Regions from separate parts of the Homo sapiens genome. Here all the other regions are linked to region 2. Evidence: fine-mapped expression QTL. A gene starts in region 2. Each other region holds a variant in brackets. All regions are shown on one strand. Distances are between the middles of the regions. Region 1 overlaps FLYWCH1 (FLYWCH-type zinc finger 1). Region 2 holds the start of FLYWCH1 (FLYWCH-type zinc finger 1). Region 3 overlaps GREP1 (glycine rich extracellular protein 1). Region 4 holds the start of FLYWCH1-AS1 (FLYWCH1 antisense RNA 1).

Region 1 (8,000 bases), 26 kb before region 2:
TTATCTTCTTTGGCTCATTGTTTTGTTTGTTTTAAATTACACACAGGGTCATGCTCTGTTGCCCCAACTGGTTTCAAACTCCTGGGCTCAAGTGATCCTCCTGCCTCTGCCTCCCAGAGTGTTGAGATTACAGGCGTGAGCCACCATGCCCAGTCTGACTCACTGGTTTCTTATAAGTGTGTTCTTTAATTTCTACGTATTTCTGAGTTTCCCAAATTTCTCTGTTTTTGATTTGGTTTTTGTTTGTCACCTAGGCTGGAGTGCAGTGGCACAATCTTGGCTCACTGCAACCTCTGCCTCCCGAATAGCTTGGATTACATGCATGTACCACCATGCCTGACTAATTTTTGTATTTTTAGTAGAGATGGGGTTTCACCATGTTGGCCAGGCTGGTCTCGAACTCCTGACCTCAAATGATCTGCCTGCCTTGGCCTCCCAAAGTGCTGGAATTACAAATGATCTGCCTGCCTTGGCCTCCCAAAGTGCTGGAATTACAGGTATGAGCCACTGTATCCAGCCGTGAAAGGACTGAAATGATACAAAGTATGTTCTTTGACCATAGTGGGATGTAATTACAAACCAATAACAAGGCTGGGCACAGTGGCTCTTGCCTGTAATCCCAGCACTCGGGAGACCCGAGACAGGAGGATCATTTGAGGTCAGAAGTTTGAGACTCAGCCTGGCCACCATGATAAAACCCTATCTCTACTGCAAATACAAAAATCAGCTCGGTGTGGTGGTACATGCCTGTAATCCCAGCTACTCAGGGGGCTGAGACAGGAGAATTGCTTGAACCCGGAAGGTAGAGTTTGCAGTGAGCTGAGATCATGCCGCTGTACTCCAGCCTGGGCCACACACAGACTCCATCTCAAAAAATAAAATAATGGACTCTTGCTTTATGGCCTGGCTGTGGTTGAGAAGAACCTGAATTCTGCTGCTGGCAGCTTCCCTCTTGTTCTCTCTCTGTCCCATGGCTGTCATGTGAAGGATGCTCAAGTGGGCCCAAGGAGGGGTCCCTATGGTGAGGAGCAGGGCCTCCAGCCTCACTTGGGCCTTCAGATGACTGCCACCCTGGCTGACAAATTCTCTTCAACCTCAGGAGTCAGAACCACCCAGCCCAACCACTCCCATAATGTTGACCCACAAAAGCTGAGACAGCAAATATTTGTTGTTTTAAGCCCACTACGTTTTGTTGTAATTGGTCATGCACCATTAGATAACAAATACAATTACCCATAAATCTGCTGGCTTTCAGGAGAACACGTCTTGAAGCACAGCTGAACTTGAATCTTTTCTGTGGAAAAATAATTGAAAATATGAATTAATAATTCTTCTCTTGTTGAAGCTGACAGAACCAAGGACACACACCTTGTTAACGACGCCCTCAAGGCTGTGAGGAGAAAGACAACCGGGTGAAGCAACGCTGGGAATTCAACGCATCAATTACCTTCCCAGGTAACAGCAGCTACTTGAGCTCCTAAGAGTTGACCTTCAGCTGCTGTCATGGAAAATAGTGGGGGTCAACTAGACATCAAAGATGAAAGGCCAGGCCTCCAGCACAACTTTCTCTGTAAGCTCGATAGTGGCTTTCTCAAAGAAATCCTTTTCTCAAAAAAATTTCTTGTAAAGACAGGGTCTTGTTCTGTCACCCAGGCTGGACTGCAGTGCATGGCTCACTGCAGCCTCAACCTCCCGGGCTAGAGTGATCCTCCCCTTTTCTGAGGAGCTCAGACCACAAGCGTGCACCACTGTGCCCAGCTGATTTATAAACTTTTTTTTTAGAGACAGGGTTTCACCATGTTGGCCAGGCTGTTTTCTTTCAAGGTTTCACCATGTTGGCCAGGCTGTTTTCTTTTCTTCTCTTTTTTTGAGATGGAGTTTCACTCTTGTTGCCCAGGCTGGAGGGCAGTGGCGCGATCTTGGCTCACTGCAACCTCCGCCTCCCAGGTTCAAGTGATTCTCCTGCCTCCCAAGCAGCTGGGATTACAGCGTAGCTGGGATTACAGGCATGCGTCACCATGTCCAGCTAATTTTGTATTTTTAGTAGAGACGGGGTTTCTCCATGTTGATCAGGATGGTCTCGAACTCCTGACCTCAGGTGATCCGCCTGCCTCAGCCTCCCAAAGTGCTGGGATTACAGGCGTGAGCCACTGTGCCTGGCCAACTTGGATTTGTTACTGTTATACAGGACATGGCCCTTAATATTCACATGAATGACAGTGAGACACACAATGCTTTCTAAAGATTGGTTTTGGCCGGGTGTGGTGGTGCACACCTGTAATCCCAGTTACTCGGGAGGCTGAGGCAGGAGAATCACTTGAACCCAGGAGGCAGAGGTTGCAGTGAGCCAAGATGGCTCCATTGCACTCCAGCCTGGGCAACAAGAGCAAAACTCTGACTCAAGAAAAAAAAAAGGTTGGGCACAGTGACTCACGCCTGTAATCCTAGCACTTTGGGAGGCCAAGACAGGCGGATCACGAGGTCAGAAGATCAAGACCATCCTGGCTAACATGGTGAAACCCCGTCTCTACTAAAAATACAAAAAATTAGCTGGGCTTGGTGGCAGGCACCTGTAGTCCCAGCTACTCGGGAGGCTGAGGCAGGAGAATGGTGTGAACCCGGGAGGCGGAGCTTGCAGTGAGCCGAGATCGCGCCAGTGCACTCCAGCCTGGGCAACAGAGCAAGACTCAGTCTCAAAAAAAAAAAAAAAAAAAAAAACAAAGACTGGTTTCACATTCTGTTTATATGAATAATTTGTGTGTGCACAAAAGCAGTCTGCTCAGTGGGTGCCTGGCCTGGGGCATCAGTTCTGAGCTGGAAGAGATGAGGATGCCCACAGCCCTGCCTCTGCCCCACAGCCTGCCTGTACCTGGGTCCTCCTGCTGGGCCGTGGTGGGGAGCCGCTCCCGTTGCCTCAAGGCCTCCAGGCCTGCCAGGTCAGGCTGATGGCAGTGGCTGCGCATGACCATGATGCGGTGGCCCTGGGTTATGGCGCGGCTGCGGCAGCCCAGCCGAGCCTGGTCCCGGCACATCCAGTACACCTTCTCCCCAGCCGCCTTCTCCTTCCTGTAGAGGAAGGACTCGTGCACCAGGAACCTGCCCCCCAGGGAAGTCCTCAGGAACTCCAGGGGCCGGAGAGGATCTGAAAGGGAAAGTGACACTGTGAGTGGGGCCACAGGGGCCTGGGTGGCAGGGCTGGGGGTCTGATTTGTATCCCCCAGCCAGGCCCCACCAGGAATCTGCGATCCCCTAGCACGCTGCACGGTGGTCCCTGCCCTCCTCCCCTCTGGGCCCTGCAGCCCAGACTCCCACGCTGGCTGGCCCTTTCCAAGGGCTCTGGGGATGACTGGGCACGTGGCC[T/G]GGCAAGCACTGGACCCTGAATGCTCCTGAAGGACTCTCCCAACCCCTCAGACCTCATGCTTGCAGGTGCATCCCCCAGGGCAGGGGCTGAGCCTTTCTGGGCTGGGCACCAGGGCCTCCTGGCTCCCTGTCCACCTACCCCTCAGCCAGCTGGCAGCTGACTTTTAACAAGCTGAACTAAAAGGTCACATGATGTTGGGGTGGCCAGAGAGAACCCCGTGAGACTAGAAGCAGTGTGGGTGGCGTGGGGGTAGACCAAGAGTGTCCAGGATCCACCGTACGGCCCGTCAGCAGATGCCAAGCACTCTCTGTGGCTGCCAATGCCACCCCTGGCCACCATCCTCTTCCTCTAGAGAGCTGAGTGGGTTTCTACCTCCGACAGCCAGTCCCCACTACCCAGAGGACCAGCTGCAGGAGCTCGGAGCCCGCAGATGGAGCCTCCTGCCCCTGGGGAGTTTATGGCCCCGGCTGTCAGACCACCATGCACAACACACAACACCCCACGGGCAGCCTCCAGCCAGCGTGTGGGGCACAGGTCCTGGGAGACCAGGCAGACCCAGCCCAGCACCCTCCACACGCACCTGGGCTGTCCCACTGCGCCAGGTTGGGGAAGTGCTCCCGCTGCCGCAGGGCCTCCAGGCCGCCCAGGTCCGGTGGGTGGCAGTGCCTGCGCATGACCATGACCCGCCGGCCCTGGGTGATGGCGCGGCTGCGGCAGCCCATGCGGGCCTGGTCCCGGCAGGTCCAATACACCTTCTCCCCGGCCGCCTTCTCCCGCCGGTAGAGGAAGGACTCGTACACCAGGAAGCTGCCCCCCAGGGGCGTCTTCAGGAACTCGGGGCCTCCTGTTGAGAAATGGGAGGGGAGGAGCAGCGGACACCAGCTCTCAGAGCCCAGATCAGCATGGCCCCGAGATGAGACCTCCCACAACGCCCACACCTCCTCCTCACAGTGAGGTGGCCCCGGAGCCCAGGACACAGATGCCACCATCCCCCCAACTCTGCTGGGGCTCCAGCTGCTGGGGTCCGCCTCCTGAGGCTGGGGACTGGTCAGGTGAGGCCCCTGCAGGTGGCGGCCAAGCGTCCCACCTTGCCATGCCTTCAGGGAGGCAGTGTCTGCTGCGTCACTCGTCCGTCCCCAGCACCCGCCCAGGCTTGCATGCAGGGTGCGCCGTGCCTGGTTGGTCAGAGGAATGACCCGGGGCCCTCTGGGGACAAAGCTGCTCAGGAGCCGGATGGGGCTGAGAGGGGTGGCCCCCGAGAGCCGCGCAGGTAGAGGTGTGACCCCAGGACTCTGAGGAAGAGGCAGGGAGCAGCGTCCACTGTCCTGGATGTGGTGAGAGGGAGGACCTGGCGGGTGGCTGTGCCTTGCCCAGAGGATACCCTTTCCTCCGTGCAGGCTCAGGGGCCACAGAGGTGGGGAGGTGGCCTGGGGCATCGTGGACACATCGGGTGGCAGTGGAAGCAGGGGATGGGGGTGGGTAGCAAGCCCTAGAGGAGAGGCCAGCGGGGGGCGGGAGGGTGTCTGGCTGTGGAACTACCTTCAAGAGGGATGGAGAGGGCTGGGCAGGGGCCATGTGGAGCAGGGAGGCTCGGGAGGCAGGAGGACCCTGAGGGGCACAGCAGCACAGGAGCCTGGGGACCACGAGACAGAAGAGGTCAGGACGAAGGTGGGGACGCCAGGCCACGGGAGGGGGTGGTGTGACCATGGGGCACGCTTTATCCCCTTCCACACGGATGAAAATATCCAGCAAGGGGCTGCGCACGGTGGCTCACGCCTGTAATCCCAGCACTTTGGGAGGCCGAGGCAGGCGGATCACGAGGTCAGGAGTTCAAGACCAGCCTGGCCAACATGGTGAAACCCCATCTCTACTAAAAAAATACAAAAAATTAGCTGGGCGTGGTGGTGTGCACCTGTAATCCCAGCTACTCAGAAGGCTGAGACAGGAAAATCACTTGAACCTGGGAGACAGAGGTTGCAGTGAGCCAAGACCACGCCACTACACTCCAGCCTGGGCGACAAGAGTGAAACTGTCTCAAAAAAAAAAAAAAGACGCCCTCATCTGGGAGGATCAACATCTGATTAACAGGAGCAACAGAAAGGGATGATGATGGGGAAGTTAACAAAGAGCACGAGAGGATGACCCCACGATGAAGGACACAAGCCCAAAGCCTAAAAAGGCCCCCAGCACAGCCAGGTACAGCTGGGAGGGAGCAAAGACCCTAAAACCTCAAGCAAAGCTGACGGCACACAGAGGATCAGTCACGCAAAAGCGGCAGGGACGTTCAAGGGCAGGCTCTGCACCTGTGACACCACGGAGGCCAGGCTGCCCCTCCGGCGGAGGGAAGCGACAGACATTTCAGACATGAAAGGCCTCAACGTGCTACCTCCCGGGACCGGCCCAGGAAACGACGGGAGGCAGGACTTCTCCAAACCACAAAATTATAAAGAAAACCAAGAAAGAGAAAGGCAGGCCCAGAAGCAGGGAGTCAGCACAGTGAACCCCGAGGGACAGCTGGGCCCGGCCTCTGCCCCCAGGCCAGGCTGCACTGGGAGGTTCCAGCAACCTGCGGTTGTGGATGATCGGATCCAGGTGGGGTCGACCTGGACACACAAAAGCAGGCAAACAAACGCAGCAGCTGCCACCCCACAGAGAAGACAGAGCTGTGTTAGGAAGATGGGACCACAGAGCACCCCCCAGTCAGCCGCGAGCAGGTTTCTAGGCTAAAGTGAAACCAAACGTGGCCGGGTATGGTGGCTCACGCCTGTAATCCCAGCACTTTGGGAGGCCGAGGCAGGCAGATCACCTGAGGTTGGGAGTTTGAGACCAGCCTGGCCAACATGGTAAAACTCTGTCTCTGCTAAATATACAAAAATAGCTGGGCGAGGTGGCAGGCGCCTGTAATCCCAGCTACTCAGGAGGCTGAGGCAGGAGAATTGCTTGAACCCGGGAGGCGGAGGTTGCAGTGAGCCAAGATCACGCCACTGCACACCAGCCTGGGTGATAAAGCAAGACTCCGTCTCAAAGAAAAAAAAAAAAAAAAAAGCCTGTGCAAGAAGTGCACTGAGTAGCTGACAAGGAAATGGAAAAACCAATTAATAGTAGTGGAGGCACATTTTAGGAAATAGGGCAGCCAAGACCCTAAGAAACAATTGCTTAGTTACTTGTGGGGTCAGGAGCGGGGGTGAGGACGAGGCGGGGACCTCGCAGCACTGTCTCTCTGGAGATGGAACAAAAAGAGAAAGACAATCACAGCTCTCAAGTCCGAGAGAACTTTAGGGCCATGAGGCAACTCACATGACCCAAAAGCTGCAGGATCCGGAAGAGCCACTGGAAAGAGAGGCCAGCGCCTTGGGGCGTGAAGGAAGAGCAGGTGAGTGGAGGAGGCCACGATGAAATGGCTCCTCAGCCAGACGCTATGGGGACATTTACGCAACTGTGGTTGTGAAGTCAAAACACCAGGCACTGCGGGGGGCCGACCGTGTGGATAAAGATGGAGACAGCCGGGACCCTCCTCGGGCCAGCGTTTCAGGACATTATGGGTGTCTATGGAACAGCGGGCCGAGAGGAGAAACCGGCTGCATGTAAGTAAATATCACCTCCTCAATCCTTAACCACTCAGACGTTAAGACAGCCTTCCACCATAGCAACGAGACTGACCATGTGCAGTCAACACCCTCTATTACTACTATGAACTCTTAAGACAAACGGAGGAAGAGGAGGGCAGGGAGGTCTATCCCTGCTGCTGCTACTGTGGGGCAGGTCAGGCTGGAAGGGGGAGGCTGGGCTGAGCAGGAAGGTGAGACCCATTGAAAGCGGCATCAGGGGGGCCAAGGAGTAGGAGGCCAGGGCCATAGTTCCTTCTAGGATGTTCAAAGAAGGGAAGAGGACGTTTGCCAGGGGGAGCCGCAGCATGGAGAGGGAAAGGCAGTGTGGGGCTCCTGCCTGCTTCCTGGGGCCCAGCTCCCAGCCCACCCCCAGGTACCTGGGCTCCCCCGCTGCGCCGTGTTGGGGCGTTTCTCCCGCTGCCTCAGGGCCTCCAGGCCTCCCAGGTCGGGCGGGTGGCAGTGACCACGCATGACAGTCACCCGTCGGCCCTGGGTGATGGCGCGGCTGCGGCAGCCCATGCGGGCCTGGTCCCGGCAGGTCCAATACACCTTCTCCCCAGCCGCCTTCTCCCGCCGGTAGAGGAAGGACTCGTACACCAGGAAGCTGCCCCCCAGGGGCGTCTTCAGGAACTCAGGGCCTCCTGGGGAGGTTCAAGAGGCAGTCAGGGGAGGGGACAGGGGCTGGGTAGGCCTGATCGCACCCCCTTCCCTCCCTGGACCTCTGGAGGCAAGAGTCAAGGCAGGGCCGGTGAGCCCCAAAGGAAGGCAGCTCACCCGGGTCTGCGTCCATGTCCTGGTGCTCGTCTGGGGCCTCGGGCTGGGTTGGCAGCTCCTGGTCTTCGACCTTTGCTCGCTTTCTGGGCCGAGGCCTGGTGAGAGTCAGGGGACCCGGACCCCTGCGGTAGAGCAAACTATCCACGCCTCGGAGCAGCGTGTCCACTTGGCTCCCAGGGCCGTCCTGCCCAGCCTGCAGCGTCTCCACGGCCTTCTCCTGCTGCCGCCGGGCTTCCAGGCCCTCCATATCGGGCTGG
Region 2 (8,000 bases):
CCCTAGACCAAAACAAAGGAAATACAATTCTTTTATACTCATATAAAGCAAACACATGTTAAAGATTTTACTTACCGTTAGCCAGTAAGGTGGAGCTCAGGAGTTTGAGACCGGCCTGGCCAACATGGTGAAACCCTGTCTCTACTAAAAATACAACAATTAGCTGGGCTTGGTAGCACAGGCCTGTAATCCCAGTTTGCCGCCTGGCCAACACGGTAAAACCCTGTCTCTACTAAAAATACAAAAAAATTAGTCGGTCGTGGTGCATGCCTGTAATCCCAGCTGCTCAGGAGGCTGAGGCAGAACTCACTGAACCTACCGGGGAGATGGAGGTTGCAGTGAGCCAAGATCACACCAATGCACTCCAGCCTAGGCAACAAAATGAGACTGTCTCAGGAAAAAAAAAAAAAATTTCAGTGCATGTAATAAAAATGAGTATATTTTAATACATTTATATTATTTAATAAATTCAATAAATATCTCATTTAATAAAAATTAGAAACTTTTGTTACTCTAGTTTAAGTGCTTTTTTTTTTTACAGTAGATACCCATTGTTTTACAGTAGATACAGGGGCCCTAATGTGTTTCTTTTGTAATGTTCAATCTTCATTCAGTACAAATTTCTTTTTTTTTTTTTTTTTTTGAGACAGAGTCTCACTCTGTCGCCCAGGCTGGAGTGCAGTGGCTCGATCCTGTCTCACTGCAACCTCCGCTGAATCCTTGAACCAGGTTCAAGCGATTCTGCTCCTCAGGCTCCTGAGTAGCTGGGATTACAGGTGTGCGCCACCACGCCCAGCTAAATTTTTTGTATTTTTAGTATAGACAGGGTTTCACCATGTTAGCCAGGCTGGTCTCAAACTCCTGACCTCTGGTGATCTGCCCACCTCAGCCTCCCAAAGTGCTGGGATTACAGACGTGAACCACCATGCCTGGCTGCACTCAGTACAGATTTCTTAAGTGAATGGAGCACAGGCCGGCAGATTTGCATGGAAAGCTCCAAAGTCTCAGTTCATGGTGCATCACTCTCCTGTCCTCTCTCCCCTTCTCCCAGAATTGAGGGTGCGGAGCAATTTGAGTGCAATGCCAGATGGCCTACTGGGACGCTGCGGTCCTGCTGGTGACCACAAGGGCTCAGCGTAGACCTAAGGGTCACATGTTAGCAACTGTCAGGTGTCTCTCAGACACCAAGGGGTCCAAACTCTAATCAGTAAGGCTCGAAAACCAGGCGGCTCTGTCGGCAGCTGATGGAGCCACAGAATTACCTTCACACGTGAGTGAGAAGCGTCACCATCATCCCCCACACCTGGGTCACGGCGCTGGCTTGCTGGGCAGGAGCCCCGGGGGCAAATCCCGTAACTTCTCTGGGCTGGTTTCACCTGTGAAGAAAGTAAAGTGGCAAATGAAATACTGCAGGTGAAATTATTCCATGAACTGTCGACCATTAGACAAGAACAAGGTGTTCAGCATCCAGGTGCAGTAGGGGTCCTGAGTGATAGGAGCGGGAGGAGGGAAGGCCCTCTGTTTAAAAAGCTTCTGAATGGGCCGGTGGCACGGTGGCTCACACCTGTCATCTCAGCAGTTTGGGAGGCTCAGGTGAGAGAATTGTTTGAGCCCAGGAGTTCGAGACCAGCCTAGGCAACATAGTGAGACCTGCCCCTCGCCCCCACCATTTCTACTAAAAAAATTTTTTTTTAAAGCTCCTGGATGACTCCAGTGTCTACCCACCTCCCACCTACCCGCAACTGAACCATGAGCGTTGGAGGTGCACTTGCCTCAGACATGAACCACTATGGTGACATCACAGGCTCAGTGGGTGCACACAGACATTCCTCCTGAAGAGGTTGAAGGTGGCAGAGATGCCCAGATAATTAAAATTTACTCTAAAAATGAACTTCACAATCTCAGCACCGTTGGCATTTTGGGCCGGATGATTCTGCTGTGGGAGGCTGTCCTGTTCAGCGTGGGGTGTTCAGCAGCAACCCCGGTCTCTACCTGCCAGATCCCACTGTCATGCCCTACCACACGTTGTGACCACCAACACTGCAGAACGTTCCCTGGGGTGCAGAATTGCCCAAGAGCCACAGCTCCAAAGCAACTTAGAAATTAGAGCGCACAGAAAGGGAGAGCTTGGCCAATGAGACCCCCCCAGCCCGGTATTCCCCAGTCACCCTCCATCATAATATAAGTTTATTTACTCCTTCCCACAGCCTAATGCATCCTCAAATCTCTCTCCCTCTATGCCTGATATACCCATCTTCCCTCTCCTTCCCACTCCCACCAACTCAGGACATGATCCCTTACCACGACCTCTTTAGCCCAAGCCAAAGCCTCTGAACGATCTTGCCAGCTTTGGCAAGCAGCCACTCCAATTCTCCACATAGGGTGCTGACAGGTCACTCTTCCTAAAGCTTAACTTTCAGCATGTCTCTCCCCAATTAAATCATCTCCATCTCCAGCCTTAGTGCATCATCAGCTGGGCGTCATAAACACTCCGCAATCTAGCCCCAACCTCAGCCTTGTTCCTTCCACACGTCCCGCCAGTAGCACTTGGGAAAGGAACAAGAGAAACATGATATAATCACACGAGAAAATCTAGATCAAGCCCTGGAAATCATATTGGCCCTTGGAAAGCAGAAATATGCAAATAAAAATAAGCCATTTCGTTGGAATTGGAGTTTGCACATGATTATCTGACTATGGGAGTTCAGCTTCCAGTACAAGGAATAAAGGAACAACAGGCAGGGTTTAGAGCGAGGGTTTCAACTACGTCAGACCCGTTATGTGCAGGCTCCATGGGTTAGCAGCAGCCTTTTGGAACGGGGTGGAAGAGAATGGAACGGAATTTAATCCGAACAGATCCAGCTGCGTCATGTGAGCTTAAACAAGCGTCTCCCTTTAAACTTGTGCTTCAGTCATCCAGACCCACAGGCACAGAGTACACGCGTAAAAGGCATTTCTCAGTGTCGGCTGTGGGTCAACAAAGTTCGAAAGCCGTCACCGGAGATCTATAGGGTCAGAAGCGGGAGCGGGGTGCGTCCCGACCCGCAAAAGTGCAAGGTCACTGGGACCGCCCGAGCTGCAACCGTGGGACGGGGCTGATGCTGCGGGTCCAGGAAGGCAGCGCTGGGCGGGGCAGACACCGCCAGGAAACGGCGGACGAGTGCGGGGATCCTTGATGTGGGGGTGTCGGGCTTAGGCCAGGGGACGGGGGGGTGGGGATGGAGGGGCGAGGAGCAAGGAGGGAATCGCGGGAGACCCCACAGGAGGCGGCCTGAGCGCCGGGACGCAGACCCCTCCCCAGCACCCGCAACCCTCGGGACCCCCGGGAGAGCCGGGCTGCGGGCGCGTCCACGCCGGGGACGCGGGACATTCCCCGCCCGCAGGGGCCTGTCCTCACCGACGGCAGCGGGGCCCTCCCTCTCCCGCGACAGCGCCGCGGCGGATCCTTCAGCCTCTGCCGCTGCAGCAGCGAGCGTCGACCCCGCGACCCAGGCCGCCGCCGCCACCCCGACCCGGGCACCAGCTCCCAGCCCCGACCTGCCCCTCGGGAGCGAGCCCCGTGACCGCGCGCGCGACCCCGCCGGGGAGCCGGCCTTGCGGAACGCTCAGGCGCGCTACTTCAGAGCATGCGCAGCAAGACCGCGCGGCCCGTTCCTTAGGTAAACCGCTGCTCCGGGTCTTCCCTGCGCGGCGCCGAGCCGCAGGCCTGGCCTGTCAGCGCATGGGGGCGGGGACGTAACTCACGGAAAAGGCGGGGCCATCCCGAGATTGGACGGCGGCGTCCAGGGGCGGAGCTAGGATGGGGGAGCTGAACAGGACGCTCTTGGCGTAAAGGGGCTGGGGTAGGGGGCGCTTAATTGAGACCCCAGGACGGTCCCCAGTATCTGAGGCTGCCCGCAGGAAACGGAGCGTTTGCTGAGATGCACTCTTGGGCCTGTCAGTTTCCTGACCCCGTGGGAAGGCGATTCTCATGCATCTCATTGACGCCCCCAGTGACCCTACCCCAGAGCGGAACCAGTGTGAGATTCAAATAAACAGCGATAGCAACGGATTATAACCTTGACTACGATATGAGTCCAAACTGAAGGAAATAAGTCAACGGGGGAGAAGGGACAGTTGTTTCTTACATCAGAAAGCCAACAACGACAAAAAAATACCTGGGCCGGGCGCGGTGGCTCACGCCTGTAATCCCAGCACTTTGGGAGGCCGAGGCGGGTGGATCACCTGAGGTCAGGAGTTCGAGAACAGCGTGGCCAACATGGTGAAACCCCGTTTCTACTAAAAATACGAACATTAGTCGGGCGTGGTACTGGGCGCCTGTAATCCCAGCTACTCGGGAGGCTGAGGCAGGAGAATAACTTGAACCCGGGAGGCGGAGGTTGCAGTGAGCCGAGACGGCGCCACTGCACTCCAGCCTGGGCGACAGAGTGAGACTGTGTCTAAAAAAAAAAAAGCAGAAATATTACATAGTATTACAAAGTCTGCATGACGTGTGATGTAACACATTGAATGTAGAAGCAGGTATGAGAGCCAGTAGTCTTCTTTTAAGCCCGCAACAAAGATATTTGCAAAAATGTATAACTATGTCACTCGTCTCACTAAATTTCTTTGGGAAAATATTGTACTTTTTCATAAAACTATGTTAACACAATCAGCTTACTATTTTTTGGTAAGATCTTTATTGAAATATAATTCACATACCATGCATTTCTCCCATTTAAAGTGTACAATTAAATGATATGTAGTATAGTCAGAGAGTTGTGCAAACAGCACCATAGTCAGTTTTAAAACCTTTCATCACTCCAAGAAGAAACCTTTAGCCACCACCCTCCAATTTGCTAATCACCCCAGCCCTAAGTAATATGATCTATTTTCTGTCTTTATAGATTTGCGTATTCTGCATATTTCATATAAATGAAATCATGCAACAAATATGTGGTCTCTTGTGACTGACTTCTTTCGCCTAGCCTTAGCATAGCACTTTCAAAGTTCATCCATGTTGGCCGGGTACAGTGACTCTTGCTTGTAATCCCAGCACTTTGGGAGGCTGAGACAGGAGCATCGTTTGAGCCCAGGAGTTTGAGATCAGCCTAGGCAACATAGTGAGACTCTTTCTCTACAGAAAAAAAGAAAAGAGGAACAAGAGAAAATTAGCTGGATGTGGTGATGCGCTGTAGTCCCAGCTACTCAGGAGGCTGAGGTGGAAGGATCACTTGAGCTTGGGAGCTGGAGGCTGCAGTGAGCTGCGCTCATGCCACTGCACTCCAGGCTGGGCGACAGAGCAAGACCCTGTTCAAAAATAAAATAGTAGCAGAACTTAATTACTTTTTTTTTTTCTTGAGATGGAGTCTTGCTCTGTCGCCCAGGCTGGAGTGCAGTGGCACGACCTCAGCTCACTGCAACCTCCATCTCCCGGGTTCAAGTGATTCTCCTGCCTCAGCCTCCTGAGCAGCTGGGATTGGGATTATTACAGACAGTTGCCACCACGCCCGGCTTTTTTTTTTTTTTTTTCTTTTTTGAGACGGAGTCTCGCTCTGTCGCCCAGGCTGGAGTGCAGTGGCGCCATCTCGGCTCACTGCAAGCTCCGCCTTTCGGGTTCACGCCATTCTCCTGCCTCAGCCTCCCGAGTAGCTGGGACTACAGGCGCCTGCCACTGCGCCCAGCTAATTTTTTGTATTTTTAGTAGAGACGGGGTTTCACCGTGGTCTCGATCTCCTGACCTTGTGATCCGCCCGCCTCGGCCTCCCAAAGTGCTGAGATTACGGGCGTGAGCCACCACGCCCAGCCCCTCCAGCTTTTTTTGAGAGGAGTCTGACTGCGATGCCCAGGCTGGAGTGCAATGGCGCTATCTTGGCTCACTGCAACCTTTGCTTTCCGGTTCAAGAGATTGTCCGCCTCAGCTTCCCCAATAGCTAGGACTACATGCGTGCGCCACCATGCCCGGCTGATTTTTGTATTTTTAGGAGAGACGGGGTTTCACCACGTTGTCCAGGCTGATTTCAAACTCCTGACCTCAGGTGATCTGCCCGACTTGGCCTCCCAAAGTGCTGGGATTACAGGCATGAGCCACCATGCCCGGCCAGGATGCTGTTTTTGTTTCTTCGTTTGTTTTGTTTAGTTTTTGAGACAGAATCTCCCTCAGTCGTCCAGGTTGGAGTGCAGTGGTGAGATCACAGTTCACTGCAGCTTCCATCAAACTCTTGGGTTCCATTGATCCTCTTGCCTCAGCCTCCCAAGTACCTGGCACTACAGGTGCACACCACCGCACCCGGCTAATTTTTTTTTTTTTTTTTTTTTTTTTGTGGAGACGGGGTTTCCCTATCCTGCCCAGGCTGGTCTTACATTCCTAGGCTCAAGTTATTCACCCGCCGCAGCCTCCCAAAGTGCTAACCACCACGCCCTACCTTTGGCACCCTTGTTGACAACCAATTGATCATAAATGTGGTTTGTTTCTGGATTCTTGATTCTATTCCATTGATGTATCTATTACTTATTTATTTATTTAGAAACGGAGTCTTGCTCTTCTTGCCCAGGCTAGAGTGCAATGGTGCGATCTTGGCTCACTGCCATCTCTACCTCCCGGGCTCAAGTGATTCTCCTGCCCCAGGGTCCCAAGTAGCTGGGATTACAGGCACCCACCACCACGTCCGGCTAAATTTTTGTATTTTTAGTAGAGACAGGGTTTCACCATGTTGGCGAGGCTGGTCTCGAACTCCTGACCTCAGGTGATCTGCCCTCTTGACCTCCCAAAGTGCTAGGATTACAGGCATGAACCACTGCGTCCTGCCTGTTATTCCTTTTCAATATTCTTTTGCCTACTCTGGGTCTTTTGAGTTTCCAGTTGTCATCTTTCTTGTCAATCTTTGTGAAAATGAATCACTACCTTTAATTTTACATCGTTGAGACCACCGCAATTTTTTTTTTTTTTTTTTGAGACGGAGTCTTGCTCTGTTGCCCAGGCTGGAGTGCAGTGGTGTGATCTCGGCTCACTGCAATCTCTATCTCCCGGGTTCACGCCATTCTCCTGCCTCAGCCTCCCGAGTAGCTGGGCCTACAGGCGCCCGCCACCAAGTCCGGCTAATTTTTTGTATTTTTAGTAGAGACAGGGTTTCACCGTGTTAGCCAGGTTGGTCTCAATCTCCTGACCTTGTGATCTGCCTGCCTCGGCCTCCCAAAGTTCTGGGATTACAGGCGTGAGCCACCACGCCCGGCCGCAATTATTATTATTATAATTATTTTGAGGGGGACTCTCGCTCTGTTGCCCAGGCTGGAGTGCAATGGTGCGATCTCGGCTCGCTGCAAATCTGCCTCCGGGTTCAAGCGATTCTTCCGCCTTAGGCTCCCGAGTAGCTGGGATTACAGGTGCGCACCACCACCCCGGCTAATTTTTTAATTTTTTAAATTTTTTTTTTTTTTTTTGAGACGGAGTTTCGCTCTTCTTGCCTAGGCTGGAGTGCAATGGCGCGATGTCAGCTCACTGCAACTTCTGCTGTGGGCGGCAAGCCACCCAGGCGCCGAGGCAAGAGACTGAGGACACAAGCTGTTCCAGTATAATAAAATATAAAACAAGAATAGTTATACCAGATATAGATCTTAGACATGATTATATATGAATATCATTAATCATTAGTTTGTAGTAATTACTCTTTATCCCAATATTATAATAATCCCCGCTCTATAATCATAACCTAGGAAAAACCAGGCCATACAGAGATAGTGTAGCAGGACGAGTCGCAGACAAAACTCCTCAGACACCGGATTAAAGAAGGAAGAGGTTTTTTTATTCGGCCGGGAGCGTCAGCAGACTCGTGTCTTAAGAGCCGAGCTCCCTGAAAAAGAAATTCCTAGCCCTTTTAAGGGCTTACAACTCTAAGGGGTCTACGTGAAAAAGTCGTAATAGATCAAGTAAGCATGAGGAACGTGACTGGGGGCTACAAACATCAGTTAACAGAACAAAAAGTTTTATAGTGCTTTCTCATACAATGTCTGGAATTTACAGA
Region 3 (8,000 bases), 84 kb before region 2:
AAACCCCGACTCTACAAAAATACAAAGATTAGCCAGGTATGGTGGTGCGTGCCTGTAATGCCAACTACTTGGGAGGCGTATTTTGCAGTGAGCCAAAATTGCACCACTGCATTCCAGCCTGGGCGACAGAGCGAGACTGTCTCAAAAAAAAAAAAAAAAAAAAAAAAAGAGCAAGAGGGTAGACTCGGGGAGGGACTTCCTGGCCTTCGGGTGCCTGAATAGCTTAGGCAGCCTAGGGAAAAAGGGTGATGGAGGGGTGACCCTGATCTGGGGTGGAGACAGAGGATAGACCTAGCTGAGAGTTTGTCCCTCTGGGATGTGGGGCCTGGGGGCAGACAGACTCACACCTGCTTTCTGAGGTTTCAGTCCCCACTGGATGGCTGGCATTGGTGCTAGGAGGAAGGTTAGGGGCAGGAGTGAGCCCAGCCGAGGGCTTGAGAGACTGCAGATGCCATGGGGCAGGGATGGAAAGGACTCCCATACTGGGGACCACATGGGGTCCCAGGGCCAGAGTTCAGGCTTCTCCTCAGCAGATCACTGTGTGACAAGTCACTGCCCTCTCTGAGCCTTGGCATCCGAGGACAGAGTGGGATATGGCAGCCAGGCCCTGACCCTCATAGGGCCAGGTGCTTCCCAGTGCCCCCTAGGCACCCCCACTCCACACTGACCTGGTAACTTGCCATTCTGCACTGCGGAAGGGGGCTGGGATTTCAGGCCCCAGCCACCCTCTTTGTCCGAAGGGACCCCTGGAGTGGGAAGCCTGGGGAGGAGCATCGGAGCGACCCTCGCATTGCAGGGACCTACGATGGGAAGGAAGGGAGGGGTGGGGCTATGCTCCAGGCCAGTCCTCACCGACGCCACCCAGGAGGCCTTGGCCTGGCCAAGCCACCGGCCTGTAGTGGCTTCTAGGGCAGACCCAGCACCTTAGGGGGACATTAGCCAGGCTGGAAAAAGCCCAGCTCCCTTGGTCCACACTCTCCTGGGGGGACCTGGGGATCCAGGCAGGGGATAGAGGGATGTAGGGATCTGGCAGGGATGGGGCTCCTGATGGAGGCCCCTCCGTCTTCCAGCAGCCTCCCTCTCCCTTCCTCCTGGGCCCCCACCCCTGGTCCCAGTGGCCTCACCTGGCCAGGGCCCATTTTCATGGCCGTGTCCTGGAGAGGGAAAGCAGAGATGAGTGTGGCAACACTGGGGGCAGAGGCTAGAAGGGCTGAGAGGCAGAAGGAGGTGTGGGGCAGAGCCAGGGGTCCCCCACTCACCTGACTTCTGAGGCTTCAAGGTCCCTCGCAGGCCTGGGGAGAGACAGAAAGAGGCCAGTTCAGACATCAGCCCACCCGAGGAGTGTAGTGAACCCCTCTCTCCCCTGCTGATCCCCCTAGCCCCGTCTTTTCACCTGGCAGGAGCCCCAGCCAGGTCCCTGGTGTGTATCCTGGGAGGGAGAGCAGGGCATGAGGGCGGGGTTGGAGTGGGGGACCTTGGAGAAGGCAGGAAGAGGGGCAGAGAGCAACTCGGCTTTGGAGGTTTCTGGCTCTCTCCCAGGCCAGAGACCCATGGAGAATAATGGACAGGCCCACCCCACCCCACCCCTTCCCCCACTGAGACCCAACTCTGTCCGTTGGAGCCTGTCCTCCTTCCCCTCTGCTCCAGGTCCCACCCACCTCCCTCACCTGGCTGGGCTCCTTCCCACAGGAAGGCTCCAGCTCCAGCCCGTTCTTGCACCATGGGGAGACAGGGTACAGCTTGGGAGGGGAAAAGGGTGGAGGGGTAGGCAGTTTCTGCAGGTAGGGAGAGTGAGGAGTGGGAAGGGCTTACCTGGCTTCTGAGGTTTCATGCCCTCTCCAGCACCTGGAGAGATGCGAGTAGGTGAGGGACCCATGCCCACTCCTCACTGAGGGGTCTCTTCCAGACCTGGCATCTGTCCCCCACCTGGTGCCCATGCCAACCTCCCCTTCCTGGTCCATGACCAGTGGGAACTGCAGGGTCTGTGGGGGCGGCATGGGGAGAGGTTGGGGTACAGAAGGGGGCTGGAGCCTGGCCCCCCTTTCCTCCCAATTTAGGAACTGGAGCTCCCAGCACCTCCCTCCCCCTTGTGCCGCCTCCTCTCCAGACTCTACCCCGTCTAAGGCTGCAGGAGCCCCCAAGAAAACCCTCAGTACAGGGTCAGGGGAGAGCCAGGCCCCCACCTCTTTCCTCCTTTCTGCACTCCCAGCAACTCCAGCCCCCCAGTACCTGCTCTGTAGCCATTCTGGGCTAAGGGGCCTGTGGGGAGGGAGGGGTGAGCAGGGGGTTTGGGATTCTAGCTAAGGAGAGGGCGAAGGGCCTTTGGATCCCCTTTCAGAGCCAAGTCAGAAACCAGGGATCCTGGCGCCACCTCTCCTCCCTCATTTTGGTGTCCACCTGCTCTGGAGGCCTGGGAGGGAGACAGGGACATCAGCCCGACACCCCCTCACTGGCTCGGCTCCCAGCCCCCTCCTGAATGCCGATGGAGCTGAGGTGGGGTATGAATGAGGGAGGGAGCTCAGGGTTTGGGGGAGGCAGAGGGACAGGCGGGGCAGGGCTCACCTGGCTTCTGGGCCTTCATAACCCCCAAATAGCCTGGTGAAGAGAAAGGGAGCAAGTGAGGGACCCAAGGCCTCCGCTCTGGACCTCCTGGAACCCCAGCCCTGCCCCTTCCTGGTCCATAGCCGTTTGGAGCTCCCAGGCCTGTGGGGCAAAAAAGGGAACGTGGTAAGGCTGAGCCACTGGGGGACAGGGAGGCAGGGGCCAGGAAGGGGGCTCTCAGTCTCTCCCCAACCTCCTCTCCCCTCGGTCCTCGGTGCTCCTACAGACCTCCCCTCACTCATGAGGCAGGGGTCACCCCTCCCCTGGGAGTCCCACGCAGACCCAGCTAGAACACCAGGATCTAGGGGAGGTGGGGCCACAGACACAGGCAGTCCCCTCACCTGGCATCTGAGGCTTCATCCCCGCTCCTAGGCCTGGGAGAGACAGAGAGGCTGACATCAACTCCAGCCAGTGCTGCTGATCCCCAGACCCCAGCTCTCTGTCCCTGTGGCCTCAGCTTCTCTCTTCCCGTCCCACCTCCCGACCCCTCGCGAGCCAGGCCCAGCTGCCCTCACCTGGCTGGACTCCCGGTCCATTTCCATGGCCATATTCTAGGGGGAGGGACGGGGAGGGTGTGAGACGGCGGCATTCGGAGGGGGTGTCAGGAGGACGCAGCCCTAGAGACAGGGCGGGGGCCCAGGGCCCTGGGAGGGGGCCTGGCTCCCCCTCCCAGGCCTACAGAGAGACACAGAGGCAGAGCCACATCCGGCCAGCCAGTGGCACTTAATTCCCCAGGATTCAGACCCACACTCTGCCCTCCCGGCCCCCTGGCCCGATCTTTGTCTTCCCCCTTCCCTCTAAGAAGCCTGGGCTCAGCCCGGTGCGGTGGCTCACGCCTGTCATCCCAGCACTTTGGGAAGCCAAGGCAGGTGGATCATCTGAGGTCAGGAGTTCGAGACCAGCCTGAGCAACATGGTGAAATCCTGTCTCTACCAAAAATACAAAAATTAGCCAGGTGCGGTGGTGGGTGTCTGTAATCCCAGCTACTTGGGAGGCAGAGGTAGGAGAATTGTTTGAACCCAGGAGGTGGAGGTTGCAGTGAACCGAGATTGCGCCACTGCACTCCAGCCTGGGCGACAGAGCAAGACTCCATCTCAAAAAAAAAAAGCCTGGGCTCCTACCC[C/T]AGGTGTCCTCACCTGGCTGGGTTCCAGCCCCAGGGAAGGCCCCTGCTCTCAGCCTTTTCCCATATCCTGGAGAGGGAGGGAGCATGAGTAGAGTGCTTATGGCTTCAGGGGTTCGTGCATAGAGAGGCAGACCAGGGCGGGCGGGGCTCACCTGGCTTCAGAGGCTTCACATTCCCTCCAAGGCCTGGAGGAGATATAGGGGGGCTGGTGAGTGACTCAGGGGCCCCACCCACATTCTCCCCCAGCCCCTCCCCACCCCTGCTCCTACCTGCTCCAAATCCAAATCGGTTCTGGGCTGTCAAGACTATGGGGAGAGGAGGGTGGGGTGGGGATTTGGGGTTTGGTTGAGGTGGAGGTAAGGGAATCCTGGAGGCTTCCTCCCAGCAGCCCTTCAGTTATTCACCAGCTCAGCCCCCCATGAGACTGGGAAGGGAGGCAGGGAGAGGACGCCCCAGGGGTAGAACCCCAGACCCCATCTGTCTCACCTGGCTGAGCACTCAGCCCATTCCCATTCCCTAATCCTGGGGGACAGATGGAGGTGGGGGTGAGAGGGGGAAGGGGGCTCTGAACACTGGGGAGACAGAAGCCCGGGAGAGCCAGGCTTACCTGGCTCCTGTGCCTTCATGTCCCCTCTAAAGCCTTTGGGAAAATGGGGAGCAGATGAGGTACCTAGGAGCCCCCAACTCAGATCCACCCCAGAACCCCAGCATCTGGACCCCAGCTCCTCCCATCCCCCTCAGGACCTGCTCCAGGGCCATTCTGAGGTGGGGGGCTTGTCGGGGTGGGAGGGCTGAGCTAAGCTGGGGACACAGCGCCTATGGTTCCCCTTCAGGGCCAAGCCAGAAGCCAAGGATCTTGGAGACGCCCCGTCACCCCTCTCCATCATTCACCAATCCCGCCCCTGGGAGGAAGAGGCCGCCCAGATGCAGACCCTGGAACCCCAGACTGTACCCCCTTCACCTGGCTGGGCTCCCAGCCCAATTCTGTACTGGAATCCTGGGGGAATAGATCAAGGCGGGGTATGAATGAGGGGAGGGAGCTCAGGTTTTGGGGAGGCAGAGGGACAGGCCGGGGCAGGGCTCACCTGGCTTCTGGGGTTTGACGGCCCCCACATAGCCTGGTGGAGAGACAGGGAGCAGGTGAGGAACCTGGGGCCCCAGCTCTGGGCCTCCCCAAACCCCAGCCCCGCCCCTACCTGGTCTATAGCCATTTTGAGTGGTGGGGCCTGTGGAGGAGAGAAAGGGTTAAGGCCCTCCGGAGCCCTGGATGCCATCTCCAGCCACCTCGGGCAGGGGTGTCCCCACCCCCAACTTCAACGAGCCAGAAAGGCAGGTTCCTTTCCTCAGCAGCCTCCAACTGTCAAGCTCCAGCTCCTGCCACATCTTGGGTCTGAGCTCTTTTTTTTATTTTCTTGAGATGGAGTCTCGCTCTTGTTGCCCAGGCTGGAGAGCAATGGCGTGATCTTGGTTCACTGCAACCTCCGCCTCCCGGGTTCAAGCAATTCTCCTGCCTCAGTCTCCTGAGGAGCTGGGATTACAGGTGCCCGCCACCACGCCTGGCTAATTTTTAGCATTTTTAGTAGAGACGGAGTTTCACCATGTTGGCCAGGCTGGTTTTGAACTCCTGACCTCAAGTGATCCGCCCGCCTAGGCCTCCCAAAGTGCTGGGATTACAGGCGTGAGCCACTGCGCCTGGCCAGGTCTGAGATCTTGCTGGAGCCTGTACCTTCTTTGTTCAAAACTCTCCTTTTGGTTCAGTTTCTCAGAGGGTTGGGCCACTCTCTCCTCCCTGGCCTCCACTGCCTCCTAAGAACTCCCAGAGCCCAGCTCTGGGGCAGCCTCAGCCCATACTGTATGCCCCAGCGTGGCCCTGGTTGGGGAGGGCCTGTCCCCAGCACCTGGTTGGCTCAGAACAGGCATGGTCCACGGATTACTTTGGTTGTTGTTTGTTTGTTTGTTTGTTTTTGAGACGGAGTCTTGCTTTGTCACCCAGGCTGGAGTGCAGTGGCACGATCGGCTCACTGCAAGCTCCGCCTCCTGGGTTCACGCCAGTCTCCTGCCTCAGCCTCCCGAGTAGCTGGGATTACAGGTGCCCACTACCACGCCCGACTGATTTTTTTGTATTTTCAGTAGAGACGGCGTTTCACTGTGTTAGCCGGGATGGTCTTGATCTCCTGACCTTGTGATCCACCCGCCTCAGCCTCCCAAAGTGCTGGGATTACAGGCGTGAGCCACTGAGCCCGGCCTGTCTGTTTTTTAAACAGGATCTCTCTCTGTCACCCAGGCTGGAGTACAGTGGCAAGATCTCCACTCACTACTACCTCGACTTCCTGGGCTCAAGTGATCCTCACCTCTCAGCCTCCAGAGTAGCTGGGACTACAGGCACGTGCCACCACAACTGGCTAGGTTTTTTTTTTTTGTAGATGGATTGCTTGAGCCCAAGATTTCAAGACCAGCTTGGGAATGTTGCCCAGGCTGGTCTTGAACTCCTGGGCTCAATTGATCCACCTAACTCTGCCTCCCGAACTGTTGGGATTACAGGTGTTAGCCACTGCTCCAGGCCTGGATTGGTTTGTCGAATGAGGTTTGTTGTGTGAGACCAAGTTGGGAGGCTAGAGATTGGGGCTCGCCTGCTCTCTGAGCCTTTAGTCCCCCTCCCAGGCCTGGGAAGAGAAGGGGAAGGACTTCCTGTGAGTCCACCCATCCCTTCCTCTCTGCTCAGGACCAGGGCCAGGCCCCTACATCAGTAACCCCCAACCCCTAAGACCTCCATGCTCCCAGAACTCCAGGGCCTTACCTGCCTGGGTTCCAGCTCCCAGGAAGGCCCCGACTCCCCACCCATTCCTATTCCCAAATCCCAGGGGACAGAGCCAAAGAGAATGGGGAGATCAGGGACTCTAGGGAAGCAGCGGCAGATGCATAGGAAATGGGCAGGGAGACAGGGACAGGGAGTGGCTCACCTGGCTTCTGGGGTTTTCCACCCCCTCCAAAGCCTGGGGGGAAGATGAGAGGGTGAGGGATCCTTTCCTCTGGGCCTGTGCCCAGAATCTCAGCCCCAGGCTCCCCGCTTCCGTCCCCACCCTCTTTACCTGGTCCAAAGCCATTTTGAGCGGCAGGACCTGTTTGAGGGCAGACACAGGAGTGTGGAAGGTGGTGCAGTGGGGATGAGCTGGGGCCTGGAGCCCTGCCCTCTCCCTTTCTGTCTCGCGTGACCCCTGCCCTCTGCCTTTCTGTCTTGTGTGAACTCCCTCCCAGGCCTGACTGCAGTCAAAGTTGGATTTGGTTCTTGGCCCGGGAGTCCAGACCGTGGCCACCCTTGACCAGCTTGGGTGTCCTCCATGGCCAGCCGAGGCCTGGCTTGGGACGGGTGCTCAGGGGAGATTGGGTGAATGAATGAACCCCCAAGAGCCCATCTGTTGGGACCCAGAGTGTGGCCCTGGGCCCCTGACCTCTCCCCCAGCCACCCCAGCCCCTTCGGCCCCGACCTGGCTGGGTTCCCGGTCCGTTTCCATTGTTGTATCCTGGGAGGAGAAGCAGTGTGTGAGGGGTGGATCTGGGGAGGGCTTGAGGGTGGGACAAGGCCATAGATGCAGGGGAAACAGTCAAGATAGGGGAGAGGAGAGCAGGGGCTCACGGACCCCACCCATCCCCTGTCCTCCCCCAGAAATAAACTTTCTGCCTTCTGGACCTCTGATATCCCCTGGTTCTTCCCTGTGTCTTCTAGAATCCCAGTGTGGTCCAGCTGCCCTCACCTGGCTGGGCTCCAGCTCCTAGGAAGGCCCCAGCTCCCATCCCATTCCCATCACCAGATCTTGGGAGACCGAGTAGAAGGAGGAAGCAGAGGCAGGGCCGGATGTGTGTATGTGGGGAGTGGAGGACAGGGACACAGGAAAGGGCAGGCACACCTGTCTTCAGAGGTTTCACCCCCCGCCCCATGCCAGGAATAGAGAGAGAGACCAGGTAAAGGAGGCTGCAGCTCCCTGGAGCCCCCAGACCCAAGCCCAGGCCCTCCGCAACACCCTACCCTCCCTGACCTGGTTTTGGGCCTGTGGGGTGAGGGAGGCAGAGGCTGGACCTAGGCCATGTGGAGTGCGGGTCCGTGGTCCAAACACCACCCAGGGCCACTGTGCTCCACACCCTGACAGTTCACTAAGGGCGCATGCCCAGGAAGCAGCTCAGAGGCCTCCACAGGAGTCCCCACCCACAGGAATGGCATTGGCAGGCCACAGAGGGACGAGTGCCTGGGGAGGGTAACACAGACCGAGAGGGGGACAGA
Region 4 (8,000 bases), 42 kb before region 2:
AGACGTGGTGACACACGCCTGTAATCCCATCTACTTAAGAGGCTGAGGCAAAAGAATCCCTTGACCCTGGGAGGCGGAGGTTTCAGTGAGCCAAGATCGCGCCACTGCACTCCAGGCTGGGTGAGGGAGCAGGGGCAAAAAAAAAAAAGAATGCTCTGGAAGCTCTCAGAACACTTCAAGGTGCTGCCTGGGCTGGCTCATGCCTCCCTCCGTGACCTCACCCCCACCACATTCCCCACACCCCAGCATGATCTCCTCCTGGTTTTCCAGGTCCGGTCCTTTCTCCGCTCTGGGCTGCTGTACTGCGGTTCCCTCAGCCTGATGTGCTTCTCCCTACATCTTCACTTAATAAATTTGTGCTGCGGAGCTCAGAGCTGCCTCCTCTGAGAAGCATTCCTTGATCTCTACCCCTCCAGCCTGCTGTCTGCCCCGCCCGCCATTGCCTCCTTAGCTGCCTGGTTCCTCTGCGCCTCCCCCACCACCTGAGGAATGGGTGACAGTGGGACACAGCAGGGGGCGAGATGACCAAAGCCAGGCTTATTTCGGTGGGATGGGGTCACTTGCTGCCGGCTTGTCCTAGATGCTCTGGTCACCAGCGTGGGCAGAGCCAGGGAGGGGCCCTGATTTGGAAACTCAGAGTTCAACTCAGCCCTTGAGCTCCTGGGTGGATTTGAAGGGGTTTTCCCATGGGGATGCTGGATGACTGGCTGTCACCCCAGTGGCTTGGCCTGCAGGACCCGCCCTTCTCAGATGAGGACCCCAAGGCTGGCAGGGCCCGGGAGTGCCCAGGGCTGGCTGGCTTCATTTGGGCCCCAGGCCAGTCGGCTCGGAATGGCTGCTGGGGCGCTAGCGGCCTTGGCCTCCAAAATGTCTGCAAGAGTTGCTGGAAGCTGCCCTGCCCTGGCTGGGCTGGGGCTCTTTCTGAATGCAGGAGTCTGTCTGTCTGTCTGTCTGCCTGTCTGTCCGAACAGCTCACTGTGTTGTTGCACAGGGGCAGGAAGGGGCCCACACGGGCAGCTCCAGGGGCTGGGGGCGGGTGAGCCAAGCCCTTTCTTCCTGTTCCTCCTGCTCAGGTTGAGGCTTCACTTTCCATGGAGAGAGGCCCCTTCCTGCACCCTGGGGAGGGAGGCTGTCCACAGGTAGGGCCAGGCCCGGTCAGTGGTGCATGGCCTGAGTAGGGTGGGGGGGCACGGGACCCCTGGAAGGTGAGAGACCAAGAGCCTTAGCTGGTCTGGGGGCTGGTGTGGGGGCGAGCAGAGCCAGTCCCGCCCTTCCCAGCAAGTGAGGACGACCATGACCTGGTTCCTGGAAGGCGGAACAAGGAGGTGAGCCACCTGCTCGACCCCGCCCACCCCCTCCTCCACGGGCCCCTCCCCCAGCACCATGGCAGATGCGGGGCTTCGCATGTCCCGGGGACCCTCATTGCCCTCAGAGTCCTGGCCACCCTCACCCTCCTGACTTTGACCTGCTGCTGTCTAAAAAGCAGTGCCCACCCCCCGGACTTTCAGCGGCTCACCCCGCTCCCCGGCTCCCCCTGCCTCAGGCCTGCAGGCCCGGTGAGGGCTCACTCGCTGGCAGGGCTGGGGGTGTCCTGTCCCCAGGAAGGCCGCAGCTGGTCTCCACTCAGTCTGAATGAGGGGTGACTGGAAGCCCCCCTCAGGGGGGCCTAGTCCCTCCTAGCTGCCTACCCCGCCATCCCCACCTCGAGGGCTTGACGGGCACTAGAAGGGCCCTCAGCTTTGGATAGAAGGAGGACCCCCACCCCACATTGCTTCACAGAAAGGAGGAGTATTTGCCTCGAACATGACAAGTGCTCAGAACAACTGTTCCTGTTGCCGGAGTGACAGGGAATCCAGGAGGGGAGGGCGGTGTAGACACAGGTGGGGCTCCTGCACTGGCCCCACAGGTGTCAGGCGTGGAGGAGGGAGGGACTGGGCAGAAGCGGCCCCTCCCCGGCCTGGGGCTTGGGATCTTTCCGGGAGACACCGAGGGAGACAGTAGAGGCCGCTCCTCCCTGCTGCGCGGCACCCCCACCCCCCCGCAGGGGTGGATGGGCACCTCGGAGGCAAGCCAGGGGCTGGTGGGGGCCGGAACAGGTGAGGAGAGGGCTGGGCAGCACCGAGCAGGTGGGGGCCTCTGGGTCCTGGCATCCCATGCTGTCCTCGGGCCTCACGGGGGACACGGCTTGGTCCCTGGCCTGCCCCCCGGGGCCTTCCCACGACCCCCGCCTCCCCAGCAGATCTGTGAGGTCCAGGCAGGCCTCTTCTCAGGACCCCAGGAAGGGCCATTTGGGCACCCCACACAGCCCCCGAGGCTTCCTGCCTTAGACTGGGCAGTACGGGGGAGGGTGGGGCCCACAGGGACTTGTCTGGAACCACATGGCTGGCAGGGCACAGCCCAGTGGGGTCCCTCCGAGCCAAGGCACTTCCACAGGAGGGCCCCCAACACCGCCTCCCAGGTCAGGGAGGGAGTTTGGTGATTAGTGAGGGGTGGGCTGGGAGCTGTGGCCGGCGGGATTCTGAGGTGGCCCCAGGATCCCCCCTCGGTGTCTCTGTGCTCCATGACCCCCTCCCTGGAGTATGGGCCACCTCTCCTGTGATTGTTCTGTGTGGCACCGGTGGAAGGACTTTTTACTTTTTTTCTTTCTACTTCTCCCGTGGTGTTGCAGTGGCGGGATTTCTGCAGGTGTGACCGGGGTTTCTAATCAGGTGACTTGGCGTTCATCAGAAGGGAGGTTGATCTGGCCGAGCCTGGCTAGCTCAGGTGCACCCTTTAAGAGGCTGGAAGCCACAGAGCCGCCCCCTCCTGATGCCAAAGAAGCATATGGCCATCGGCTCCACAGCTGCGAGAAAGATTATGCACACAACGACATGCGCTCAGGAGGGGACCTCGCGCCTCGGTTGAGATCCCAGCCCTGGCTGACACCTTGAGTGCAGCCTGTGAGACCCTGAGCAGAGGTTCAGCAGTCCCCTCCCCGGACTCCTGCCACACAGAAGCCATGAGGTAAGTGGGTGTTGTTTCGAGATGATAAATTACTAGTGATTTGTTCTGCAGCAATTGTGTGCTGGAGCGCAGAGGGGCTGGCAGGATGGGGGGTGGTGAGGGGCGAGGCTCATTAGGCAGGTTGTGGACCCCCAAAGGCTGCAGTGATAGCCCGCTCAGGTCCAACACCCTCCTCGTCAGTGGGGGCCTGGTAGGCCCTGTGCACAAAATGGCCCCGGCTACGGTTAAGTGCCTCCAGCTGGGCCCATTCCTCTGGGGCTTCAGTATGGGGAAGGGGGTGATTGGCCTCCTTCCTCGGCAGCCGGATGTGTTCTGTTGGCCACGCAGGCCGGGAAGCAGAGCAGGTGGCTGGAGGGCC[G/A]GTGGAACGGGTATCTGGAGGCAACCGTGGCTGGTGCTAGCAGCCTGAGGCCAGGGACTCTCATACCCTCTGTCTCCTGAGAACCCCCTTGGGTACGTCTGGCTTCTGGTCCTTGAACCAGGTAGTCGCACCTGATGGGAAAAACAGGGCGAGTACACCTGGGGCAGGTGTTATGCGCTTCGATTTCCACTTTTAGAGCCAGGAGCGGTGGCTCACACCTGTAATCCCACCATTTTGGGAGGCTGAGGCGGTGGATCTTTTGAGCTCAGGAGTTTGAAACCAGCCAGGGCAACATACTCTGTCTCCACAAAAAATTAAAAAATTAGGCCATGGCTCATACCTGTTATCCCAGCACTTTGTGAGGTCGAGGCGGGCGGATCACCTGAGGTCAGGAGTTCGAGACCAGCCTGACCAACATGGTGAAACCCTGTCTCTATAAAAAAAAAAAAAAAAAAAAAAAAAAAAAAAACTACAAAATTAGCCGGGGGTGGTGGCGGCACATGCCTGTAATCCCATCTACTTGGAAGGCTGAGGCAGGAGAATCGCTTGAACCTGGGAGGTGGAGGTTGCAGTGAGCCGAGATCACACCACCACACTCTAGCCTGGGCAGCAAGAGTGAAACTCTGCTTCAAAAAAAAAAAAAAAAAAAATTAAAAAACTAGCTGGGTGTGCTGGTGCACACCTGTGGTCCCAGCTATTTGGGAAGCTGAGGTGGGAGGATTGCTTGAGCTCAGGAGTTAAAGGCTGCAGTGAGCCAAGGTGGCATCACTGCACTCCAGCCTGGGTGACAGAGTGAGACTGTTTCAAAAAGGAGGCCGGGGAAAGTGTGCCTGGGCAGGTGTGTGAGCTGGCGTGTGCGCTGAGCTCATCCTGTTCTCGCTGAGCTGTGATGGGGCCGGGTTTGGCAGAGGGACAATGCAGGCGGGAGACAGGCTTGGAGACTGCTGTGCACGCCTGCCAGTGGCTGTGCCCTGCGTGAGTGCCGGGCTGAGGGATGACAGGCTTGGAGACTGCTGTGGTCACACCTGCCAGTGGGCGTGCCCTGCATGTGTGAGGGGCTGAGGGATGACAGGCTTGGAGACTGATGTGGCCACACCTGCCAGTGGCAGTGCCCTGCGTGAGTGAGGGGCTGAGGGATGGGAATGTTTATGAATACGGGGACCCAGGAAAGGGTCTCCTTTGCTGTCCTAGTGCCTTCCCCGGATTCTCCAGATCCTCTCAGCATTACACTCTAGAGAAAGGGGCCCCATCAGCTCCTTAGCACACGAGGGAAGGAGACAGACAGAGGGGCCGGGCATGGTGGCTCACACCTGTCATCCCAGCACTTTGGGAGGTTGAGGGGGGCAGTTTGCTTGAGCCCAGGAGTTGAAGACTAGCCTGACCAAGATTTTGAAACCCTTCGTCTACTAAAAGTTAAAAAATTAGCTGGGTGTGGTAGTACACACCTGTAATCCCAGCTATTCGGTAGGCTGAGGCAAGATAATTGCTTGAACCCAGGAAGTGGAGGTTGCAGTGAGCCACGATCACACCACTCAACTCCAACTTGGGCAGCAGAGTGAGACTGCCTCAAAAAAAATAAAACTAAAAAAAATAAAGGAAAACAGGCAGAGGAGAGGAAATGCTAATGGGGAAGCGGCTGCCTTTCAGGGTGATGATAATGTTCTGGAATGAGATAGTTGTGATGGATGCACAACCCTAGGAACTTACTAAAAGCCATTGATGGTCCGGGCTCTATGGCTCACACCTGTTATCCCAGCACTTTGGGAGGCCAAGGCGGGTGGATTACGAGGTCAATAGATCAAGACCATCCTGGCCGACACAGTGAAACCCGGTCTCTACTAAGAATACAAAAATTAGCTGGACATGGTGGCGTGCGCCTGTAGTCCCAGCTACTCGGGAGGCTGAGGCAGGTGAATCGCTTGAACCAGGGAGGTGGAGGTTGCAGTGAGCTGAGATCACGCCATCGCGTTCCAGCCTGGGCGACACAGCGAGACTCCATCTTAAAAAATAAATAAATAAATAAAAGACAAAGGCAGGTGGCAGGCCCTGATGACTGATGGGACACAGGACAGGCAGGGCAGCGAGGATGACTGTCTCACTCATTTGTGGTCTCCTCCCTCAGACAAGAGGATGGAGGACAATCCCCTCTGCCACCTGTGCTGCATGGTGCTTATGGGAGATGCCGGGCAGGGCCCAGGAGGCAGCTGGACATGACGTCCAGGTCTCATTTGCAGAAGGGAGGGCTGACAAACCGTGAACCCCAAAAGTGGCAGAGCAGAAGAGGGCTGAGGTCCAGCCCCCAAATCACCAACCCCCACTCCAAGGTTGGGCTGGATCAAGGCGCTCACGAAGGGGGCTGGGAGGGGAAGCCAGAAGAGCTGGCACTGGAGGGGACCTGGGAGGGCGGTCAGTGCCCACGGCCAGCTCAGAGACACACCTGCTGGCCTGAGCGACAGGGGTCCTGTGCCACTCTGTCTTGGCAGAGGAGGTGGGACAGGAGGCTAGGCTGGGACCACTGGGGAATGGGGCCCACCTTATGACTGTGGGTCAGGTCCCGGGGGGCCAGGGGCTCCCGGAACTGGCCACTGCCCCACCCCCATTTTCAAACTTAGAGTTCTTAGTTGATACGTTTCTGATGCCTTGGGGATTTATTTTAAATTTCATGAGATGTTGTTGGCACTGTCATGTCAAAGGGCACGGACACACACCATGTGGTGCAAATGTCATACAGCAGGGTTTGTGGGCGAAGCACCAGCAGAGGCAGGGCTGGAAGCAGGAGCTGCCCCGCTGAGCTGCTGCCGGGCTGCACGCTCCGCGGCCAGCGTTCACCCGCACGCTTTAACTCTGTGACAGTGACTGGGCAGGCGACATCTGGTGGCCCTGGAACTTTGCAAGGGGAAGGCTCTGAAGCTCACTTAGTGGCTGTCAGGCCCTTGTCATGGCTGAGTGGCCACCAGGGTGCGGGTTGGTGGCCATGAAGCCACCCAAGGCAACAGCATCATCTAAATTCACGTCCATTGGAGAATCTCAGCCCAGCAACGCGAGCTGCCGTCTGTCTTCTAAGGTCAAAGCAGGCGTGAGGCAGAGGAAGAGTGGGCCAGTCCCGGTCAATGACGCAAATATCCAAAAGGGAAGAGAAGCCGATATTCTTCCTCTGATTCGCCTCATACCCGCTTAGGGGTGCCCAGAGCAGGGCATGGCATCATGTGACCATGGCGGGAAGATGCTGGCCGTGGAGGCCCCATCACAGAGGCAAGGAGCCCACAGGTGGAGGGCGCAGGCTTGGCAGGTAGCAGAGGCTGCAGTGACTCAGGCTGCTGTGACCCGGGCGTTTCTCTCGTATCTTGGGCATGTGGAGAGCTTCCCCTTCTGCAGGGGGCCTGATCAGAGGTCCAGCTGGTGGCGGCATGAACTGGACCATCTTTCAGCAAGTACCTTCCTCGGGCATGGCTGCCTCCTGTGGGCGTACACATTTGGACCACACAGTGGGAGTCGGGATTGGAGTACTGGGTCTGTAGCCTTGGCCATGAGTCCAGCTGGGGGCAGTTAGGTCAGCCTCGGGGCAGGATGCTTCAGGGCCGAGAACAGTGCCCAAAGCGCAGCCACTGTGTTGTGTGTCCTCTGCCATAGGCAAAGGATGGACGGGTGGGCAAGTCTGCCCTTGGCCCAGGGGTGCCACTTGCCCAGGCTTATGCAGATGAGTCTAGGCGTAACGCAGGCTAATGGCGAGAACAGAGCATCCTGCCTCTTCCAGCAACACGACGCAAATGTCCTGCCATATCCGGGCCTGGGAGAGGCCACAGGCTGCAGCTGGCCCCCCAGCAGCCCTTCCAGAGGCCCCAACCCCAGGTGTCTCCGTCCACTCTTGGTCCAGGTTACGTCTGGGCCAGGTGACTGTAACAGCCCAGGCATGGGGAGGGGTCTCCCCCTGGGCACTGGCATGGAGATGTGACGGAGTGTGGTTTCACGGCGGCCAACTGTTGCTGCAAGAGGGATGTGAACAAGTACCAGCTCCACACGGTGAGATGGAAAATAGGATTTATTGGGGGAACCGTACAAGCAGAGGAGAAGCAGGGGTGCCCAGGCTGTCACAGCCTTGCAGTGCATGGTGGGTTCCGTGGCCAACTTGCCAGGGGACAGGCCTGTTGCTGGCACTCCCCCCACAATTACAGGGTGGGAGTGAAGGACCTCGCGGCTGCGGACAGGTCCTTGTTAGTAAGGAGGAGGCTCTGCAGTCCCGGTGGGGTCATCTTGCCTCTCCGGACTGCTCCCTCTGACTGGTGAAGCCACACTCTGTGAAGCTGTCTGACAGAAGGGGACACGCCTTTGCTGCCCAGGATGGACCTGGGCCACCCAGGATGCCGCTGGCCTCAGCCAGGGCACGTGTGCCCAGCGCTGGCTCCTGCTGACCCCTGGACTGGCTCCCATCTCGGGAATGACGCCTGCCGTGGGAATCGTGGAGAGGGGGTTTAATTTAACTTGGAAGGAGCACAGAAAGGAAAGTGTGGAGTGCGGAGCGAGGCCTCTGGTTTGGCCAGCTCCGGTTGCTGGGGATGGCCACACCCTGGCAGCAGGCGGCCAGAGACCAGGAAGGCCTACCCAGCACCTGTCCAGAAGAGATTGGTGTGGGTTGACCTGG

Evidence for each region.
Region 1: its variant is fine-mapped to the expression of FLYWCH1 in whole blood (TOPMed, PIP above 0.99).
Region 3: its variant is fine-mapped to the expression of FLYWCH1 in whole blood (TOPMed, PIP above 0.99).
Region 4: its variant is fine-mapped to the expression of FLYWCH1 in coronary artery (GTEx, PIP 0.99). The same link has a PIP of 0.9 or more in spleen.

The regions. Positions count from the first base shown.
Region 1 is chr16:2,933,326-2,941,325 of GRCh38, reverse strand. FLYWCH1 (FLYWCH-type zinc finger 1) reads right to left here. Exons shown (of 10, transcript NM_001308068.2): 5 at 7,744-8,000; 6 at 7,347-7,610; 7 at 3,942-4,205; 8 at 2,870-3,142; 9 at 1,234-1,294. FLYWCH1-AS1 (FLYWCH1 antisense RNA 1) reads left to right here. Exons shown (of 4, transcript XR_007064947.1): 4 at 1,346-2,863. Among named protein-coding and RNA genes, the nearest start is that of FLYWCH1-AS1, 19 kb to the left of the region's middle. RefSeq lists an enhancer at 2,522-3,135. The variant T/G (reference allele first, on the strand shown) is at 3,361.
Region 2 is chr16:2,907,552-2,915,551 of GRCh38, reverse strand. It overlaps FLYWCH1 (FLYWCH-type zinc finger 1), which reads right to left and starts at 3,621. Exons shown (of 10, transcript NM_001308068.2): 1 at 3,398-3,621; 2 at 1,263-1,376. RefSeq lists silencers at 2,988-3,177, 3,151-3,250, 3,281-3,430, 3,451-3,760, 3,811-3,870.
Region 3 is chr16:2,991,648-2,999,647 of GRCh38, reverse strand. It overlaps GREP1 (glycine rich extracellular protein 1), which reads right to left. Exons shown (of 29, transcript NM_001396456.1): 9 at 7,210-7,245; 10 at 6,814-6,843; 11 at 6,685-6,717; 12 at 4,921-4,950; 13 at 4,810-4,842; 14 at 4,686-4,721; 15 at 4,332-4,364; 16 at 3,994-4,029; 17 at 3,877-3,909; 18 at 3,117-3,152; 19 at 2,943-2,975; 20 at 2,563-2,595; 21 at 1,813-1,845; 22 at 1,260-1,292; 2 more. Among named protein-coding and RNA genes, the nearest start is that of GREP1, 7.4 kb to the right of the region's middle. RefSeq lists enhancers at 466-966, 967-1,467, 3,135-4,107, 5,427-5,928. The variant C/T (reference allele first, on the strand shown) is at 3,725.
Region 4 is chr16:2,949,195-2,957,194 of GRCh38, reverse strand. FLYWCH1 (FLYWCH-type zinc finger 1) reads right to left here. Exons shown (of 10, transcript NM_001308068.2): 10 at 5,987-8,000. FLYWCH1-AS1 (FLYWCH1 antisense RNA 1) reads left to right here and starts at 1,038. Exons shown (of 4, transcript XR_007064947.1): 1 at 1,038-1,325; 2 at 2,669-3,003. RefSeq lists enhancers at 48-967, 968-1,889. The variant G/A (reference allele first, on the strand shown) is at 3,362.